2 separate regions of the Homo sapiens genome follow, and region 2 is linked to region 1. Evidence: fine-mapped expression QTL. A gene starts in region 1. The other region holds a variant in brackets. All regions are shown on one strand. Distances are between the middles of the regions.

Region 1 (9,394 bases):
GAAACGCGGGCTGAGCCTGGGGAGCCAACTCCCTGACATCTTAGCGCCCCTATGTCGAGTCAAGGGTTCTCAGAGGGCGGGGAGGAGGAGGAGAGGCTGCAGCCAGGGAAAGAACCCAGGCGTCCCGCGTCCTGCCCAGGCCTCCGGTTTAAAGGCGCACTCCCAGAGTCTAAACCTCGAGGGTGTCTCTGGGACGTGGTAGCAGAGAGCCATGGTCTCCAAAGCGCCGATGGAGCGGCGGGAAAGCATGGGGGGAGGGCGTAGAGGAGAGGAAAGGTGGGTTCTTGGATGAACACAGCAAGGCTGAGAGAAGGGGACCCGGGATGGGGGATGGGGGATGAACCAGTTCTCAGGGTCCTGGCAGAATGCCGGGATACGAGGAGAGTGCGTTTGCGGCAAGGGCAAAGGAGAGACGAGGCTGGGTCAAGGATCAGGAAGGACCCTACACCCGGTGAAGAACACGGAGCCGGGACGCAAGGCTGGGCTCATGGAAGGAACCGCGGGAACAGCTGAGGGACCCGGTTGCCAGGGCTCTGGGTGGAGCGGGAACAGCGCCTCTGAGTCAGGGTAGTTGGAGAGATGGAGTCTTCGCGGACCGCGAGTGGGGAAGATGCCAGTCCGTGGACCATGGTGCACAGCACAGCGTAAGGAGGTACCCGGGGAGCGGACAGGAGAGACACTGGGTCTCCAGGGCGAAGGGTTGGGTGCGGAAGAACACCTAGGATCTCGAAGCGGGTAGGGGCTATCGAGGAGTCAGGAAGCTGGGGCTCGGGTGTGTGTTGGGGAGGAGGGGGAAGGGGAGAAGACTCAGGCTCGAGGTGGGGGCAGAGGCGTGGGAGCGAGGCGAGGGCAGAGCTGGGAGGGACAGGAGGCCGTTTCTCAGGTCCAGGGACTCCGCCCCCGCCCTGTCCACCCCGAACCAGAGCGGGGCTCTTACCTGAGAGGCCGAAGAGCCCCAGGCCCAGAGCAGCCCAGAGGCCGAGTAGCGCCCGGCGCAGCCCTGGCGAAGGCCCTGGCATCGCCGCGGCGGGGAAAGCACAGGAGGCGAGGAGAGCGCGAGCCGAGGAGCTGGGCTAGAGGACGGCTCCGCGCGGCGCGGCGGGTGGGGTGTGGGGGAGGCAGAGTTGCGCTTGGGGATTGGTTTAACGTTGGTAACTTGGTTTCCAAGGAGGGGGCGGCGGCAGAGGCGGCGGGGGGGCGGGAGGCGAGCGTGCGCTAAGCTCCTGGCCTTGGTGAAGGCGAGCTGGCAGGAGTGAGCGACCCCTGGGGTCTACGTGGAGGCCGGCATGATGGCCCAGGGCCTTCTGGGGGCGACCACGCTCTCTCGCGTCATCCCCGGCCGCGACTCTGGGATCGGGGGATGCTGGGTTGCCCTTCCCAAACCCCTACCCCAGCCCTGGCTGAGATGCCATGATAATAAGCTGGACTCCGAGCCCCGCCCCCACATTTAGCTCCTCCCACCAGCGCCCCTTAGGGCGGGGATACATTTGGGGACTAAGAGAGATTTGGGAGGCACTGGATGGGGAAAGGACAGTTCTAGGGGAGGGTGTGGGGATGCCTCTCTCACTGATCCTTCTCCTTTTGACCCCGCGGAGCCATACCTCTAAGCACCCCTCCGGGTCAGCTCCCGCACGCGACGGAGGGGGCGGGACGAAAGTGCCAGCGAGCCGAGGACACGTGTGCGTGCGCGCAGCGTTCGCGGGCGTCTAAATTAGAATCCGCTCGGCTCCGGGTCTGTATTTACCCAGGGTGCAGCGGGCACGTGTCTACTCAGCGTGTGTGAGCTCGAGCCACCCTGGAGCGCCCCTGAGTCCGCCTTCTGCTCGGTGGGTGGGGGCCCTGACATCCACGCGAGAACAAGGGACCGAGGGTGATGCTTTTGACTCCGCTTCCGGGCCCCAAGCTTTGACACCCCCCACCCCCAACTCCATGCGCTCATCTGGCTGGGTGACTACCAGAACATCGTCAGAATTCGAGTTTGTGATATTCCCTGTGGACCATCTGATCACCCCTTCCCGGCTGCCACCACATGGATACCTCTTCTGCGTATCCACGTCCCTCAATATGTCCGTGGGACCCTCCCCTCCCCACCATTCGTGGTCTCACTCCAGCGTGGTAAGTTATTTTGGAGATGAGTTCTCGCTCCACAGTTGTTTGGCCTCCAGGAAAGCACAGGGTCTGAAGGTGGGGCTGGGATAGGAAACTTAACATCCAATCAGAGCTGCCGCGTGGTGGCGGCGGCGCCAATCAGGAAAGCCATACCATGAACCCCACCCCGCCCCTGCCCGTGGCTCTCCCCGGCCCGCGCTGATCCCACTCGATAAGGCCAGCAGAAGGAGAGGTTTCTGTGACACCCGCTGGGGATACACAGAGTCTGGGGCTTCGGGACCCCAGGTGGGCCCTGAGTGAGGAAACCTCAGGTGCCCTCAGGGAGACAAGGAACTTGGAGAAAGTGATCGCAAAAACAACAACAACAACAAAAACAAACCAGTTCCTCCGAAGAAGGGCAGTAATGCGGACCCTTAGGTCACAGGACAGAGGCTGGTTAAGGAAGCCTTTATTGATTCCAGAGGGTTCCCCCGCCAATATTTATTTTTATTTTTATTTTATTTTTGGAGACAGGGTCGTGCTCTGTCCCCCAGGCTGGAGTGCAGTGGCACGATCAAGGCTCACTGCAACCTCGACTTTCAGGGCTCAAAGGATCCTCCCAACTCAGCCTCCCGGGTAGCTGGGACCACAGGTGCGGGCCACCACACCAGGCTAATTTGTGTATTTTTTGCATAGACGGGGTCTCACTATGTTGTCCAGGCTGGTCTCGAACTCCTGGGCTCAAGCGATTCTCCTGCCTCGGCCTCCCAAAGTGCTGGGATTACAGGCGTCAGCCACCATGTATGGCCATTTCCCCAGATTGTTTCATATTCCTCTTTTTCTCGCTCAGCCGGCATAGAACATCCCCCTTTACGCCTGGGACTTCATAGCTAGGCACTTGCATAGGTACGCAGCGCCCACAGTGAGGAGGATCCCTACAAGGGCAGCGATGGAACCGGAGGCCAAAGCTGTGGGCGCGGGGCTCCAAGCTGGGAGCAGAAGGCGAGAATTAGGAACGGAACACAGGGAGGTCTGTCGACCCGCGTGGAGCTCACGCTTGGTCTGTGCGCCCTCTCGGGGTCATAACTCTCTCTGCCCCCTTCCTCCTAGTCCCCAGGGTTACAGGGGTGCCTCACCGAGCATCAGTGTAATGGGTGCCGAGCTGTTGCGGACCACCAGGCCGTCGAGATTGAGGCGCGCGTGGCAGATCACGGGCTGCCAGAAGTCGCGGGGTCCAGCAGCAAACTCGTAGGTCAAGGTCACGTTGGCCAGATCCAGGCCGGTGAAGCGCTCCAGGCTTTCGGAATAGATGACCCGGCTTCCATGCCTCAGGGTCACCACCAAGTAGCCCACCGGGAACACCTGCGTCACGTGGCAGCGCAAAGTGTATTTCCTGCCCTTTAAGACCGGAGGCTCCAAAATCACGCTGTGGGGCGGTTCTAAGGCAAGGGGGAGCCTCTGAGTGAGGTCCGCGGGCGCTCCCTATAGAGCGACTGTCAACTACCCTTCCCCCACCTCTTCCAGCCCCCTCCCCTCACCCCAGCCGGGACCGAGCCCCTGTCCCTCACTGTAGGCGGTGATCCTGGAGGTGGCCCAGCGTGTTTTTCCTGCGCAGGTCACGAGGCAGTGCGCGAGGGAGCTCCAGGCCCTCACGTCGAGCAGCTGGTAAGACACCCAACCCGGCCCTCTGAGCGTCTTGCCTTGCCGCAGCGGGGTGCGGAGGCTGGAATTCTGCGGCTGGGGACAGCTGTTGCTGCAATTGAGCTGCACTGACTTCCCCGGCTGCACAGCCACGAACTCCGGGCTCATGCGCACCCAGAAGGGCACTGAGGTCCCGGAGGGCGCGAGAGGGCTACCCTTGGGGCTTTGCGCCCGCTTAGTCCGGCGTCCCAGCGCGCTCCCAACTCCCGGGTAGGCGGCCGCCAAAAAAAACAGCAGCGACAGAGGGAACAGAGACCCCATGGCAAAAAGCCCGGACTAAGGGGCCCCGCGCCAGAGAGCCAGGGCCGGCTCTAGAGATAAGGAGGCCCGCAGCCCCGCCTCCTCGACTCCACCCTGGAGAGGAAGGGGAGGCCCCAACAGAGGGCCCGGGAGTACTGCAAAAAGGGATTCCGCTCCCCAGGTCAAGAATAAGATTCCAGGCCTCATTAGAAACCAAATGTTTTTTTCTGGAGAGGAGTCTTTAGTTTTCACTAGAGACCCAGAAGGTCATAGAAAGTCCGATTTGGACCAGAACCTCAGGGTATGGCCATCAACCCACAATGTTTTCTTGGGGGAGGAAGTGGGAGGATCAGGCTGTGGCTGCTTAGAAAGGACTCCAGCTGGATGTGACACCTCCCCTCAACTCACACAAGGCTGAGGCAGTTGAGAAAGCTTTATTAACTAACACAAAGGAAGTCTGGGCAATGTTGCGAGACCCCGTCTCTGGAAAAAAAAAAAAAATCAAATTTGCCAGGTGTGGTGTTGTGAGCCTATGGTCCCAGCTACTCAGGAGGCTGAGGTGGGAGGATCACTTGAGCCCAAAAGGTCAAGACTGCAGTGAACCATGATTGCACCACTGCACTCCAGCCTGGGTGACAGAGCGAGAGCTTGTCTACACATACACACACACACACACGCGGATGAGGCTTCCAAAGCTGGGAGGGAGTCCTCCAATACCTTGGCCCCCTTCCCCACTGCTTGCAGGACCCTGATCACTGCAGGAAACTGGAGCTGCATAGTGCAAGCTCCCAGTGAAATGCAAACAGGACAAGAGGACAAGGCATAGCTTGGGCATATTCCCTGGGCACTCATGTCCAGACATGACCGCTGAGTGTCATTGTGAACACTGGCAGAAATGTATGTGGGTGGGGAGGTGGCTAACAAAGGTGTCAGTTTTGGGGGGAAGGGAGGAATAAGGCCTCACTGGGTAATCTCTGAACCTGTAACCATTACCAGTCCATATAGTGCTTTTGTGCCGATAGAAAAATCACTCCTTCTGGGGAAAGGCAGGTTGGCCAATGAGAAGTCCCAGCCCCATTTGATCTTTTTGCCAGGCACTCTCCTGCAGTGTACAACCTGTACAACTGTACCTGGTGACCTTGAATGTGATTAGGACTGGGAGCTCCGTGAGGCCAGAGACCTATGTTCATTTAGCCTACATAAAAGACACTCAATAAATAGCTGGTAAAATAACAAATGAATAAATACATATCATCAAGGGTTGGGGTCAGTAGACAGCAGTGCCCAAGCTGGCATCCGTCAGGAAGTGTGGGCCTTTGTGTTTTGATGCTACACATGTCTATGGAGGGCCACTTCTTCTGTAAGTCTGTGGGGCCTCAGCATACCCAATAGGCAGCAAGTTTCAGTATTTCCCAGTTGTATGTCCTCATGGTGGGGCTATGTCTCCCCCACCACTTCCCCTCTCATCAGGCTAGACTTTAACATCCATCAATCATGTCTTGAGTCTTGCTCCTTCCTCTTGGCTTAGTCATGTGACTACAGATCAGATGCGTGGCCTAGTGTTTTAGGTGTGCAGGTACCATGGCCCCAAATGCTGTTGTATCTGACTGAGGACAATGCCCTGTCCTCCGGCGTCCCAGGGCCGGTAGGTGTAGCTGCATGGCATATGTCTTCCACTCTGTTCAGTGTGGCACCACTGCCACCAATATGGGAAGGCCGAGGAAGAGGCCCTGTCCCGGGATAGGTTCAGGGAGGCGTGGCTTGTGTGTTCGGTTTCATGGGGGTCCCTTTTTGGGCCTGTTGTAGTCTGTATTTCTTGATCTTCCGCTGGCGGTTATAGAGGTACGTGCTGAGGCCTGCAGTGCCCATTATGACTGCGGCTGCTACCACAGTGATGATGACAATCTCATACCGGGGGGCTGTGGGGAGGATACAACAGGCGGTGAGGATTGCATTAGGTCCATGGCCCCTGCCCCCACCCAGCTCTGCCCGCCGGCTCACTCACAGAGCACATTCACGGTCACCTTGCGGGTGACCTCCCCTTGAGTGCTCCTGGCCCGACAGAGGTAGGTGCCCTCAAGATCTCGAGTGACAGTCACTGATTCCCCGATGGGCAGTGGGAAAGTGCCATCCTTTAGACACTTGAGCTCGGGCAATGGGTTCCCCCAAGCCTGGCACATTGGAGTCTGCTGGGAATTTTCTGGCCACGTCCAGTTTCCCGGACAATCCCTCTCGTCCAGTCGGGGGCCATCTGGAAAAACACGATGAGATGACATGGAGGTGGGTGGGGGCAGGACTTGGAGGCAAGACCTTATGGGACCTTCAGGGAGATTGGGCCTTGGGGGATAGGGGCCATTGACCAGCAGCCCCACTCACACAGGACACGAAGCTCCCGGGTCTGGTTCTTGTGTATAAGCTGGCCGGCCACCTCCAGGGTTGCAGAGCAGGAGAAGCTGCGCCCGTTGTCCTCTGGGGTGGCCTTCAGCAGGAGCTGGGCCCTCGGGCCCAGTGGCTGGGCTGGAACCCCATTCAGCGTCACCTTGGCTCTAGGGTGGGCCTCACACTTCACTGTCACCTCGGTCCCTTCTGAGACCTCTGGCTTCGTCAGAATCACGTTGGGCGCCGGAAAGCCTGGAATAGGCACACAGTGAGCCCCGCCCCGGGTTCAGGTCACACCCCCAAGAAGCCCCACTCCGCCCCTGCCCCTTCTTACTGTAGATGGTCACTGTCTGCAGTGTCTCCTGGCTCTGGTTCCCCAGTATTACTGCACACGTCAGCCGCTGGGTGCCCTCGTCCTCTGCGGTCACACTGACTGAGGCCTTGGCCGAGAAGGAGTCGTTGCCATAGGTGACTGTGGGGTTCAACCTCTGGTCCCCCAGTGCCAGGTGGACCTGGGCCTCCGAGACTGGGAACAGCCCGTCCAGGGAACAGACCACGGTCCCCTGCGTGTCCACCTCTAGGACCCGGGGGCTGACAAGTTGTGGGGGAGTCGCTGGCAGGACTAGGGAGAGAAGAAAGGTGTGAGCAGACAGGGATGGACGTCCCGAAGCCCTTCTCTGGGGCATTTCATTCCCCCTCCTGCGAGATCCTCTTCCAGGGCCACTCAGCAGCCTAGGTCACATACGCCTAGAACACATGCACCCCTTAGCCGGGGCCACACCCATCTCAAAAGATCCTGTGGCCACAGGCACCGCATTGCAGGATACCCCACCCCCACCTTCTCCCTGCTGGCTTCTTCAATCCTCACCAAAGGTCTGGAGCTGGTAGGGGGCCGAGGTGTTCTCAAACAGCTCCAGCCCTTGGGGCCGCAGGTCCAGTTCAGTGCGGCACGAGAAATTGGCTCCATGGTGATCTCTCCTCACCAGCACCGTGGTCGTGACCTCAGCGGGCTCCCCCACAGCTGGCTCCCGTTTCAGCTCCTTCTCCCCACGGAGCAGCACCACGGTGAGGTTGGCCCGGGGTGCCCCACCCTCCACCTGGCAGCGTAGGGTAAGGTTCTTGCCCACTGGCTGCCAAGAGGGGAGGGGTGCCAGTTCCACCCGTTCTGGAGTCCCTGCAGGAAAACAGAGGTGGGGGTGTCTGGTGAAGTGGACCTTGCTGCCTGCCTAACAGACGAACTGCACCTGCCTGGGAGCCCTACCTCTTCAGTATCTCCCCCAAACACGCCCAGACACCTAAGCAGATAGGAATGTCAAGATCTTCAGTGAAAACTGGTAAGAGGGCCCCGAGTGTTTGTGAAGGGGATCAAAATATTCCTTATTCATGACAGCAGCATCTTAGAGTGAAAAGTGGAAAAGAACTTCAAAGTCTATTGCTAGGTGTCTGGTCAAATAAATTCAGCAGCCCAGTGCACTAGACTGGGCAAACAGTGGCTCGATCTTGGCTCACTGCAACCTCTGCCTCTGGGATTCAGGGGATTCTCCTGCCTCAGCCTCCTGAGTAGCTTAGATTACAGGCACACACCACCACACCAGGTTAATTTTTGTATTTTTATTTTTAATTAATTAATTAATTAAGTTTTTAGACTGAGTCTCCTTCTGTCGCCCAGGCTGGAGGGTGATGGCATGATCTTGGCTCACTGCAACCTCTGCCTCCTGGGTTCAAGCAATTCTCCTGCCTCAACCTCCTGAGTAGCTGGGATTACAGGCACGTGTCACCACACCCAGCTAATTTTTGTATTTTTAGTAGAAACGGGGTTTCAGCATGTTGCCCAGGCTGGTCTCGAATTCCTGACCTCAAGTGATCTGCCCACCCCGGCCTCCCAAAGTGCTGGGATTACAGGTGAAAGTAAATGAGCCTGGCCTAGACATTCTTTAAAAAACAAAACAAAACAAAAAAAAAAACCTGTTGGCCAGGTGTGATGGCTCAGGCTGTAATCCTAGCACTTTGTGAGGCCAAGGCAAGAGGGTCACTTGAGGCCAGGAGTTCAAGACAAGCCTGGGCAACATAGGGAGACCCCCATCTCTAAGAAAAATTAAAAAAAGGTTGGCAGGGCGCGGTGGCTCACGCCTTTAATCCCAGCACTTTGGGAGGCCAAGGAGGGTGGATCCACGAAGTCAGGAGTTCGAGATAAGCCTGACCAACAGAGTGAAACCCCGTCTCTATTAAAAATACAAAAATTAGTCTGGCATGGTGGTGCACGCCTGTAGTCTCAGCTACTCGGGAGGCTGAGGCAGGAGAATCTCTTGAACCTGGGAGGTGGAGGTTGCAGTGAGCTGAGATCGTGCCACTGCACTCCAGCCTAGGTGACAGAGCGAGACTCCATCTCAAAATAAATGAATGAATGAATGAATGAATGGTTAACTGGGTGTGGTGGTGCACACCTGTAGTCCCTGCTACTTGGGAGGCTGAGGCAGGAGGATCACTTGAGCCCAGGAGTTTAAGGCTATAGTGAACTGTGATCATGCCACTGTACTTTAGCCTGGGAAAGAAAGACCCTGTTTCTATTAAAAAAAAAAAAAAGTCAGTAATGACAGAGTCTAATAACAAAAAGGCTGCGTGTGGTGGCTCACGCCTGTAATCCCAACACTTTGGGGGGCCGAGGCAGGCGGATCACCTGAGGTCAGGAGTTCAAGACCAGCCTGGCCAATATAGTGAAACCCCGTCTCTACCTAAAAATACAAAAATTAGCCAGGCGTGGTGTTGTGTGCCTGTAGTCCCAGCTACTTGAGAGGCTGAGGTTTACTTGTGAGGAAAGGATTACTTCAGCCCAGGAGGCAGAGATTGCAGTGAACTGAGATCGCGCCACTGTACTCTAGACTGAGTGACAGAGTGAGAGTCTCTCTCAGAGGAAAAAAAAAAAAAAAAAAAAAGCATCAGGACCGGGGGGGTCCTGCATTTGATACCCAGCCTTGCTTCTTTGCTG
Region 2 (10,788 bases), 34 kb before region 1:
GCCATCCTGGCTAACATGGTGAAACCCTATCTCCATTAAAAATACAAAAAAAAAAATTAGCTGGGTGTGGTGGCATGTGCCTGTGGTCCCAGCTATTTGGGAGGCTGAGGCAGAAGAATCACCTGAACCTGGGAGACAGAGGTTGTGGTGAGCCAAGATCCCACTACTGCATTCCAGTCTGGGTGGCAGAGCGAGACTCCGTCTCAAAAAAAACAAAACAAAAAACAAAAACCCTGTCTCTATTAAAAATAGAAAAAAAATTAGCCAGGCGTGGTGGTAGGTGCCTTTAATCCCAGCTACTCGGGAAGCTGAGGCAGGAGAATTGATTGAACCAGGGAGGTGGAGGTTGCAGTGAGCCAAGATCATGCCACCGCACTCCAGCCTGGGCAACAGAGCGAGACTCCCTCAAAAAAAAAAAAAATTATGTGAAGATGGGGTCTCCCTATGTTGCCCAGGCTGGTCTGAAACTCCTGTGCTCAAACGATCCTCCTGCCTTTGCCTCCCAAAGAGCTGGGATTATAGATTCGAGCCACTGGGCCTGGTCTCACCAAACATTTGTTGAGCATCTGATGAGTAGCAGGCGTTGAAGTGATGTCCTCCGAGGAGCCCACCTTTAATGTTAGGTGACCCAGCTGAATGGAGGGTGGGCTTGACAGTGAAGCAGCTTGAGGTTCACACATCAGTCCCTCGACTTAGGAATTGTGTGGCCTTGATCACTCTGTGACCCCTCTGAGTCTCTCTCTGTTCATCCCTAAGATGGGTGTGTTTATGGCCGGGCACAGTGGCTCACGCCTGTAATCCAGCACTTTGGGAGGCCAAGGCAGGCGGATCGCTTGAGGTCAGGAGTTCAAGACCAGCCTTGCCGACATGGTGAAACCTCATTTCTACTAAAAATACAAAAATTAGCTGGGCGTGGTGGTGCACACCTGTAATCCCAGCTACCAGGAGGCTGAGGCAGGAGAATCACTTGAACCCAGGAGGTGGAGGTTACGGTAAGCTAAGTTCACATCACTGCACTCCGGGGTGACAGAGCAAGACTCTGTCTCAAAAAAAACAAAACAAAACAAAAGCCGACAGGTTTGGTTATGGGAGATCTGTGCCCAGACCTTGGCACAGGGCGTGGGCAGAGGTGAAGGGCTGCTACCTGCACCTTTGCTGCCCGGGCATTCAGCAAGTGCCGGTGCCCAGCCCAACCACTTCCCTTAGCACTGCTACCTGGCTTGGCCACTGTCTGGAACGAGAGCCCTTCCTTCCCCACCCGTTGCTGATTATCTCTTTTTTTTTTTTTTTTTTGAGATGGAGTTTTGCTCTTGTTGCCCAGGCTGGAGTGCAGTGGCGCGATCTCGGCCCACCGCAACCTCTGCCTCACAGGTTCAAGTGACTCTCTTGCCTCTGCCTCAGCCTCCCAAGTAGCTGGGAATACAGGCATGTGCCACCACGCCTGGCTAATTTTGTATTTTTAGTAGAGACGGGGTTTCTCCATGTTGGTCAGGCTGGTCTCGAACTCCCGACCTCAGGTTATCTGCCCGCCTCGGCCTCCCAAAGTGCTGGGATTACAGGTGTGAGCCACCGCATCCGCCCGTGGCCTTGGCTTTGTTGGTGAGGTGGCTCCCAGCTCCGCCCTCCCTCCAGCTGTGTGGCCTTGGGTGCGCTGACCTCTCCGTGCCTCAGTTGCCTTCTCTGAGAAATGGGTATGATGCAGCCTCCCAGGGTCATTGGGAAAATCAGATGAGCTGATGCAGGAATGAGGCACAGGGCAGTGGAGGCCTGGCGTGGAGTTCACCCTTATGGGGCAGCTGAGTCTGGTTACGGTTGTCACTTCCCGGGGTGGTGCAGTCACTGCTGCCCAGATGCTCATGACTGCCTGCCTTCCTCCGGCAGCTGGCGTGCGGCCAGGATGGGCAGCTGAAGGGCTTCGCGGTGCTGGAGTATGAGACGGCTGAGATGGCGGAGGAGGCACAGCAGCAGGCGGACGGCCTGTCCCTGGGGGGCAGCCACCTGCGAGTCTCCTTCTGCGCCCCTGGGCCCCCCGGCCGCAGTATGCTGGCCGCTCTCATCGCTGCCCAGGCCACGGTGAGCCTGTGCGGGCAGAGGTGGCGGGGTGGGGATGGGAGCCCCATGGGGATGTCAGGGCCCCAGCGGCACTCTGAGCTGCTTCTGTTCCTTCCTGCAGGCCCTCAATCGGGGGAAGGGACTCCTCCCCGAGCCCAACATCCTGCAGCTGCTCAACAACCTGGGCCCATCCGCGTCCCTCCAGCTGCTGCTCAACCCCCTGCTCCATGGCAGTGCGGGGGGGAAGCAGGGTAAGGTGGGGCTGGACAGGGGCCCCACTGTGCAGAACAGGGGCTGCAGCGCTGCCCCCGGCACTTCCCGAAACTGCTCATCTTGGCTGCAGTGACAGGAGCCCCAGGAGTAGGGCCGAGGGGGAGTATGGAGTCATAGCGGGGGCTGCTGCTGTCCACAACTGGGGGCCGGGACCAGGGCCACACAGCAGCCTGCAGTGAGGTGGGGTGCTGACAAGAGGGGGCTGACCTTCACTGGAGTAGCCTCTGCCCCTTCTAGGCCCTTCCTTTGGGCAAGTCCACTGCCCACCCCCCGGCCCCAGAGTGTCAGTTTCCTGCCCCATCAATGGGTTCAGGGCTGTGTTTCGTGAGGTGGGGCAGGGAGGACACAGGGACCCCCACACATCCTCCTATGTCTCCCTCCAGGCCTCCTGGGTGCCCCCCCAGCCATGCCGCTGCTCAATGGGCCAGCCCTGTCCACGGCGCTGTTGCAGCTCGCCCTGCAGACCCAGGGCCAGAAGGTAACACACGCATCCCCCTCACCCACTGCTCTACAGCCCCTACAGGCTCTTTTCAACACAGCTGGTGCGATCGGTGGGGTGGGGGGACCTCTGGCTGTGCCCTGGGGGCGCAGAACCAGGGTGAGGGCGACTCCCCCAAACCCCTGCCTTTCCCACCCACATCCCCATCCCCCTCTGGCAATTGCTCATGATGGTTCGCCATCTTTCCCTCCATTCTGAGAGCGCCCCTGGACTTGGTGCCTGGGGTGGGGTCAGGGGACCTGGACACGCCCATTTACAGCCTGAAACTGGGTGTGGGCTGGGAGCGCCGCTGCTGGGCACCAGTTTGTGAATAGACTCTGCTCGGAAGCTCTATAGACATGCCTGGGAAAAAACTCCAGGTCTATCCCCTCAGTGTGTGCACACACACACACGCACACCTAGAAACACAGGTATACATATAGACTCACACATACAAAGATGCAAATATACACACAGAGACATAGACACACAAAGACATAAGACAAAGACACACACATAGACACAGACACACATATAGACACAAGACAGACTCATGCACACAGAAACAAAGACACAGATATACACGCACACACACACACAGACACACACACACATAGACATACACCCATGCTCCGTCCTGTCTGGTGTGGTTCCCTGGATTCTAAGTCAGGTGTGTCTGTCTGGTGGTAACTGACAGAATATGTGAGCCTGTGGGTCTGGCCTTCTGTGACTAAAAGTGGCTGAAACACTGTGTGGCTGTCCCATTCCATGTGGCTGCAGTTGATACTGTGCTGCAATCATTGGCCAGGGAACTGGGGCCTGGAGCTCAGGAGACCCTCGGTCACCATGGCTGATGGGACAGTGATAGAGTTGGAGTGTGGCGGGCACTGGGGAACCCTGTGCCTGTCTGCCCAGGATCGGCCGTGCCCTGGAGTTGGGGTGTGTCTGCCAAGACTCTGGGCCACACCTGTCTGCTTCCCTGGGCCACCCTGCCCCCATCTGCAACTGTCTGTGCTCTGTCCCTAGAAGCCCGGCATCCTGGGAGACTCACCCCTGGGCGCCCTCCAGCCTGGGGCCCAGCCAGCCAACCCCCTCCTCGGGGAGCTGCCTGCAGGTAACGCAGACCCTGCCCACACGGTGTCCCCCAGCCACTTCCCCTTCCTTCCCTGCTACGTGGCCTCGGGTGAGTGACCCAACCTCTGGGTCCCAGCGCCCTTGTCCATCAGTTGGGTGCCCTCCACTCAGGGCCCAGGGATGAGCTCTGCTCAGTGGCCAGCATGGATTTGTCTCTTGACCCCTGGGCCCTGGTCCAGGTGGGAGCTGGAGGGCCCTGGGGAGAGGGGTCCTGTGAGCCTGGGCCCCTGAAATCCTCCTTCCCTCCCTAGGAGGGGGCCTGCCCCCGGAGCTGCCGCCCCGGCGAGGGAAGCCACCACCCCTGCTGCCATCCGTGCTTGGCCCTGCTGGGGGTGACCGGGAGGCCCTGGGCTTGGGTCCCCCAGCGGCCCAGCTCACTCCTCCCCCCGCCCCTGTGGGGCTCCGAGGCTCTGGCCTCAGAGGCCTCCAGAAAGACAGTGGGCCTCTGCCGACGCCCCCTGGGGTAAGGCCCTGCCCTGCGCGCGGCACCACACCAGCCTCCTGTTCCGCAGGGTTCCCTCTCCCGGGGGCCCTCTCGAATCCTGCCTTCCCGCCACAGGTCTCACTGCTGGGGGAGCCCCCCAAGGACTACCGGATTCCCCTGAATCCCTACCTGAACCTACACAGCCTGCTCCCGGCCAGCAACCTGGCGGGTAAGGAGGCCCGGGGCTGGGGAGGCGCCGGGAGAAGCCGCCGCCCAGCTGAGGGCCCCCCAACTAACCCCCCAGCCCCTGGAGGTGGCAGCAGCAGCAGCAAAGCCTTCCAGCTCAAGTCCCGCCTGCTCAGCCCCCTCAGCAGCGCCCGCCTGCCCCCCGAACCAGGACTGTCTGACAGCTACAGCTTCGACTACCCCTCGGTGAGTGCCTGGCTGCAGCTCTCTGTCCCCTAAGGCCAAATCATTCTCCAAACTGATATTTCTCTAGGATTGACTATGCCAGGCCATGTGCTAGGGAGGCGGCAGGGAACGTGCCAGATATGGTCTCTGCTTTTTTTTTTTTTTTTTTTT[A/TA]GAGACAGGGTCTCCCTCTGCTGCCCTGGCTGGAGTGCAGTGGTGCGATCATAGCTCACTGCAGCCTCAACCTCTTGGGCTCAAGCGATCCTCACACCTCAGTCTCCTGAGGAGCTGGGACCACAGGCACGCACCTCCATGCCCAGCTAATTTTTAAATTTGTGGTAGAGACGGAGTCTCATTGTGTTGTCCAGGCTGGTCTCAAACTCCTGACCTCAAGTGAGCCACCCGCCTCAGCCTCCCAAAGTACTGGGATTACAGGCAAGAGCCACCGCGCCCAGCCTCATGCCCTTAAAGTTTCCCGTCTGTCTGCACATCACCCCCTGCTTCCGGTCCACCTGCCTGTCTGTCCATTCTCGAGCCCTGGAGGATCTTGGGTCTCAGTCTGTCTGTCATCCTGCGTCTGTCTTTCTCTCCCAAGAGGACTTAGGCCACACTGTCTCTCCCCAGAGACAGGGCTTGCCCTTTCTATCCCTCTCTCCCACCTTTGATTCCTGTCTGTGCCCCTGGAGATTTGGTCCTTCTATGATGCCAACCTCCTTGGCAGGTCAGAAATTGCAAACTGGGCCAGGCACGGTGGCTCATGCCTATAATCCCAGCACTTTGGGAGGCCGAGGCGGGCAGATCACCTGAGGTCAAGAGTTCAAGACCAGCCTGACCAACATGGAGAAATTATATATTATAAAATATATAATAAAATATATATTTCATATATAATATAAAATATAATTTATGTTTTATACTAAAAATACAAAATTAGCCAGGTGTGGTAGACATGCCTGTAATCCCAGTTACTAGGGAGGCTGAGGCAGGAGAATCACTTGAACCTGGGAGGCGGAGGTTGTGGTGAGCCAAGATTGTGCCATTACACTCCAGCCTGGGCAACAAGAGCAAAACTCCGTTTAAAAAAAAAAAAGAAAGAAATTGCAAACTGGCCGCCCACAGGTCACCTGGGTGATGTTTGGCCCCCTCTGTGTTTCAAACAAATAACAACAGGAACTAACGCCAACACAGGAAAACTGCAAGAGTCCACACAGCTCGAATTCCCAGCTTGCCTGGGAAACTCCAAACACTTAGGCCCATGGGGGGCACCCCCCTTCACAGCAGCCATCCCTGCCAAGCTGCATCCAGCCCCAAATTTGCCTCTTCCTGGTCCCAGAGTGGTGGGGACTGTCTTCCCTGATGACAGCTCTGCCATGGAGTTCAGCCAGGGGTGAGGCTGGGACAGACTCCAACCCAATGTGCTTCTCCCGCTTTCATTCAGGACATGGGACCTCGGCGGCTCTTCTCCCACCCACGGGAACCAGCCCTTGGGCCTCACGGACCCAGCCGACACAAGGTAAGAGCCACCTGGTATGGCATGTGTAGCAATCAGCTTTTACTACATGACAGGCTGTGCCATGACTTAGTAGCCTGGAACAGCAGACCTTGTATTTTGTGTGTTCTTTGTGGGTTTTTTTAAGACAGGATCTCACTGTGTTGCCCAGGCTGGAGTGCAGTGGCTCCATGATAGCTCACTGTGGCCTCAAACTCCTGGGCTCAAGCAATCCTCCCACTTTGGCCTCCCAAAGTGCTAGGATCACAGGCATGAGCCACCATACCATGCCAGGCATTGTATTACTTCTTGCCACTCTATGGGGCAGTGGGCGGTCCCCGGCACTCACCTGGGTCTCAGTGAGCTATGTGGCCTCACATATTTGGCGTCCACAGGCTGGAACAGTTTCTGTGTGCCCATTCGTGCGGTGATGATCCCTGGGTTCCTGGAGGAGGAAGAGGAGGCGGGTACCCACGTGCCAGCTCTCCTCAGTCCTATTAGCCAAAGCTAGTCTTTGCAAAGCCCAGAACTGCCGGGCATGGTGGCTCACGCCTGTAATCCCAGCACTTTGGGAGGCCGAGGTGGGCGGATCACCTGAGGTCGTGAGTGTGAGACCAGTCTGACCAACATGGAGAAACCCCGTCTCTACTAAAAATACAAAAAATTAGCTGGGCATGGTGGCGCATGCCTGTAATCCCAGCTACTCGGGAGGCTGAGGCAGGAGAATCGCTTGAACCTGGGAGGCAGAGGGAAGATTGTATACAAAGGGCTGGGTACTACAATTGTCTGCTTCACTCCACCGGCCCTTCTTCTACAGATGTCCCCCCCGCCCAGTGGCTTCGGCGAACGGAGCAGCGGTGGGAGTGGCGGGGGCCCCCTGTCTCACTTCTATTCAGGCTCGCCCACTTCCTACTTCACCAGCGGCCTGCAGGCTGGCCTCAAGCAGAGCCACCTCAGTAAGGTGAGGAACCTCTCTGGCCAAGCACAGGCCCCCTGGGACAGCTAGGATTTGGGGGTGCCTGCCACCGGGGCTCTGTAACCCTCGGTGCCCAGGCCAAAGCTGGGGTGGTGGCAGGGGTTGGTCTTGCTCAGGGTGGAGTAGCAACAGCCTATTGTCCTCCATCCACTCTGCATCAAGCACCTAGCACTGCCAGCATTCCGGGCTTTCTGTCACTTCCTCTCTCTACAGCCCAGGCTGTGGGTGCTACTGGCCCCATCTGACAGATGAGAAAACCGAGGCTCAAATAAAATGGAGCAATTGGCCCTAGGTCTTATAGCTAGAAAGTAGCAGAAGCAAGATTTGAACCTGAAACTGTTCGCTTTCCCTCAGGGCTGGGGGGCAGTGGCAGGGGGGCGGGGTGGGTGCTTCCTCTGGCCCCCAGGGAGTGACCTGTTCCACCTCTCCATTTCTCCCAGGCAATCGGCTCTTCCCCGCTGGGGTCCGGAGAAGGGCTCCTGGGCCTCAGCCCCGGGCCTAATGGTCACAGCCACCTGCTGAAGGTACGGGCAGGGGGTGGGGACATGCAGGGCTGGGAAGCCCCGGCCCCCCAGCGGCCCCTGACCCGCCCCGCCCTGCCCTCTGTCTCCAGACCCCACTGGGCGGCCAGAAACGCAGCTTTGCCCACCTGCTGCCCTCGCCCGAGCCCAGCCCAGAAGGCAGCTATGTGGGCCAGCACTCCCAGGGCCTCGGCGGCCACTACGCGGACTCCTACCTGAAGCGGAAGAGGATTTTCTAAGTGGCTGGCACCAGAGATAACTCAAGGGCCTGCACCAAATCGCTTTTGGGTTTTCTGATGTTTTGTTTTGTGTTTTTTTTAAACCATTTTCTCTCTTTCGGTAATAGAAAAATCTCTGAAAGACTTTACTGACCAATCAGCCGGAGCCCCAGGAGCCCAAGGGGTGTGGGGGAGTCTGGAGGCCTCATTATGTCTCTGGCTTGCTCCCCACGCTGAAACCCTGCAGCCTTAAGAGAGAGGGGCCCCGGCCTGCTCTCCCTCCCTCCCCCCATCTCCTCCTCCGCTGTGCCCGTCTCTCCGGAGCCCTCCTGCCTCATTGCTCCTGTAATTTTGGCCTTTCGAGTGCCTTGGAGGTTTCCCTGACCTCCCGTGAAGATACAGAGACTGTCTCCTTTTTTTTTAACTTTGACAACTGACTTCTGTTTCCTTTTCTAAGTTTTATTTTTCAAACCACCCCGGACAGCCCCCAGCTCTGATTCCTTCAAGGCCCGGCCTGTCCGGGCCACCATTCCACACCTTGCGGTTTGAAACAGCTGTTTTTCCCACATTTGCTGCAGGCATGGCTGTCTCCTGCCCCTGCCTGCCCATCTGGCCTATACCCCAGCCGTGGGGCCCGGGGTCCCTGCCGCAGCCCCCTCCCCTTCTGATGCCTTAAAAGCTGGGCCCCAGGCCCTGCTGGCCAGAGCCACAGATGCCAAGCTCTGGGAGCTTGACTATGGACCAAACAGCTCTGGCCTAGGGATTGGGCCACCCTACCCAGGATCTCCACCCTGGGGACAGTAGAAGGGGAAAGCCTTCATCTTGGCGAACCGGCCCCACCACCCCCTCCTACCCGGGCCTCCGTGCAGAGATGGGCTTTCTCTGCCAGTCCCCTGCTGTCTGTCTGTGGGAGTCGGACATTGTGCCCATCTCCCGGAGCCTCTGCTGTCACTCGCTTGTTGAAGATGAATTCTTGAATTCTGCCTGCCCACCCCCGGCCAGATCCCTGGAGCTGGCCTCCTTCCAGCCCAGTGCCAGAAACCAGCACTCCATGAAGATAAACTCTGGGCCCGCCCACCAGCAGGACCTGTCGACCTGAGGTGACCCTGGGCCTTGCCCCCAGCCAACTGGGCCACCAGCTTCCCTCCCTTGACTCTGGGGGTCCACATCCACTCCAAGGGGACTATTCCCCCGACCCCACCCCAGTCTCCCCACACGGACCTTTGCTGAATTAAAGTTTGTAAGTAAATGGTTTTAAAGAAATCAGAGTTGGCTGGTTCTTGGGACAAACAGTGGGCTTGAGTGGGAGGTCTGGGATGGCCCCGCGGGTTTACCTGAGATGGATTCCGCCCTGCTCTTCCCACCTGGTCACCGCAGGCCCTAAGCAAACATCTGCGCTTATGTTCCATTGATTATGGGCTTTCCCTCGCCTCCCTGGCGCGGCGCATGCTCAGTCGGTGAGTCACGTGATGCATGTCATGGCCGCCTCCATGGCCCGGGGAGGCGTGAGTGCCAGGGTTCTACTGCAGGCTGCCAGGGGCACCTGGTGGAACAGACCTGGGGGCACTTCCGGGTCGGGGGAGGGGGTGGCGCTGGGGACAACCAGAAAGTTTCAAGCGACAGGTACCTGGGGCGCCCGGGGCGGGCAGCGTTAATCCGTCAGATGCCGGCGGGGCGGGGCTCGGCGCAGCCGCTCACCGAACCGTGTTTTCCAGGCTCGCGCCCGGCTGGAGAGGAGGACGCGGGCGGCCCGGAGCGGCCCGGGGACGTGTGAGTGCAGGGGGCCAAGTCCCCCATTCCTCATCCCACGGAATTCCTCTGGTCCCCATCTTGCCCTGTAGCTTCATCTCGAGGTCCCCCTTCTGCTTTGCCCTATTCAGTACCTGTGCGTCAAGCCTCAATTCCTACTTCCTAACCCTAGATTCTACCCGGGCCCTGAGCCCATCATCCAGTTCGGCATTCGCACTTCCATCTGTCCCCAGGGTGAACGTGGTGTTCGTAGACCGCTCAGGCCAGCGGATCCCAGTGAGTGGCAGAGTCGGGGACAATGTTCTTCACCTGGCCCAGCGCCACGGGGTGGACCTGGAAGGTAGGAACCGGGCAGAGGGAATTAAGGAGGTCCTTATACATTTGTCCAAAAAAAAAAAAAAAAAAACCCACAAATTAGGTGTGTCTCTTCACGTCTTTTTCCCACCAAATATGGACTAAAATCCAAACCCCTCACCATGGCCTCATCTGTTGCCAAGCTCTTATTTGTTAAGCATTTATTAGAGATCACTAGGACTCCTGGCTCCCAGGATTTTGTGTTCTCTTCCCCCTTCCTCCCTGTATTCTAGCCACATTGGCTTTCTTTTTGTTGTTGTTGTTTTGAGATGGAGTTTCACTCTTGTTGCCCAGGCTGGAGTGCAATGGCTTACTGCACCTCAGCTCACTGCAACCTCCACCTCCCGGGTTCAAGCGTTTCTCCTGCCCCAGCCTCCAGACTAGCTGGGATTACAGGCGCCCACCACCAAGCCCAGCTAATTTTTGTATTTTTAGTAGAGACGGGGTTTCACCACATTGGCCAGGCTGGTCTCAAACTCCTGAAAGGTGATCCACCCGCCTCAGCCTCCCAAAATGCTGGGATTACAGGCATGAGCCACCGCGCCCAGCCCACACTGGCTTTCTTGTGGTTCCTCAAACAACCAAGCTCATTCCTGCTTCGGGGCCTTTACATTTGCTGTTCCCTCTGTCTGAAGTGCTTTCCCAGCAAACATTCTGGCTCTTTCTCATCCTTCAGACCTCAGTGTAAATGTCATGTCCCTAACAATCCCAT

The links. PIP is the estimated chance that this variant, and not a neighbour inherited with it, causes the effect.
Region 2: its variant is fine-mapped to the expression of ICAM4 in whole blood (INTERVAL, PIP 0.95).

Annotation. Positions count from the first base shown.
Region 1 is chr19:10,281,669-10,291,062 of GRCh38, reverse strand. ICAM4 (intercellular adhesion molecule 4 (Landsteiner-Wiener blood group)) reads right to left here and starts at 4,108. Exons shown (of 3, transcript NM_001544.5): 1 at 3,657-4,108; 2 at 3,225-3,527; 3 at 2,543-3,077. The coding sequence starts at 4,050. The coding sequence ends at 2,959. It overlaps ICAM1 (intercellular adhesion molecule 1), which reads right to left. Exons shown (of 7, transcript NM_000201.3): 3 at 7,277-7,582; 4 at 6,743-7,030; 5 at 6,406-6,660; 6 at 6,035-6,280; 7 at 4,448-5,948. The coding sequence ends at 5,776. ICAM5 (intercellular adhesion molecule 5) reads right to left here and starts at 1,111. Exons shown (of 11, transcript NM_003259.4): 1 at 938-1,111. The coding sequence starts at 1,019. It overlaps LIMASI (lncRNA inflammatory and mucous response associated, antisense to ICAM1), which reads left to right and starts at 7,613. Exons shown (of 4, transcript XR_007067138.1): 1 at 7,613-7,742. It also overlaps ICAM4-AS1. RefSeq lists a silencer at 2,187-2,256 and enhancers at 3,981-4,120, 3,467-4,436, 4,491-4,540.
Region 2 is chr19:10,314,660-10,325,447 of GRCh38, reverse strand. It overlaps FDX2 (ferredoxin 2), which reads left to right and starts at 9,433. Exons shown (of 5, transcript NM_001397406.1): 1 at 9,433-9,596; 2 at 9,689-9,743; 3 at 9,956-10,062. The coding sequence starts at 9,452. RAVER1 (ribonucleoprotein, PTB binding 1) reads left to right here. Exons shown (of 13, transcript NM_133452.3): 4 at 1,882-2,073; 5 at 2,174-2,303; 6 at 2,709-2,803; 7 at 3,830-3,917; 8 at 4,189-4,400; 9 at 4,497-4,793; 10 at 6,208-6,282; 11 at 7,076-7,219; 12 at 7,675-7,758; 13 at 7,848-9,236. The coding sequence ends at 7,994. It overlaps FDX2-ZGLP1 (FDX2-ZGLP1 readthrough), which reads left to right and starts at 9,433. Exons shown (of 9, transcript NR_176052.1): 1 at 9,433-9,596; 2 at 9,689-9,743; 3 at 9,895-10,062. RefSeq lists silencers at 5,077-5,290, 8,354-8,545, 9,679-9,798. The variant A/TA (reference allele first, on the strand shown) is at 4,944.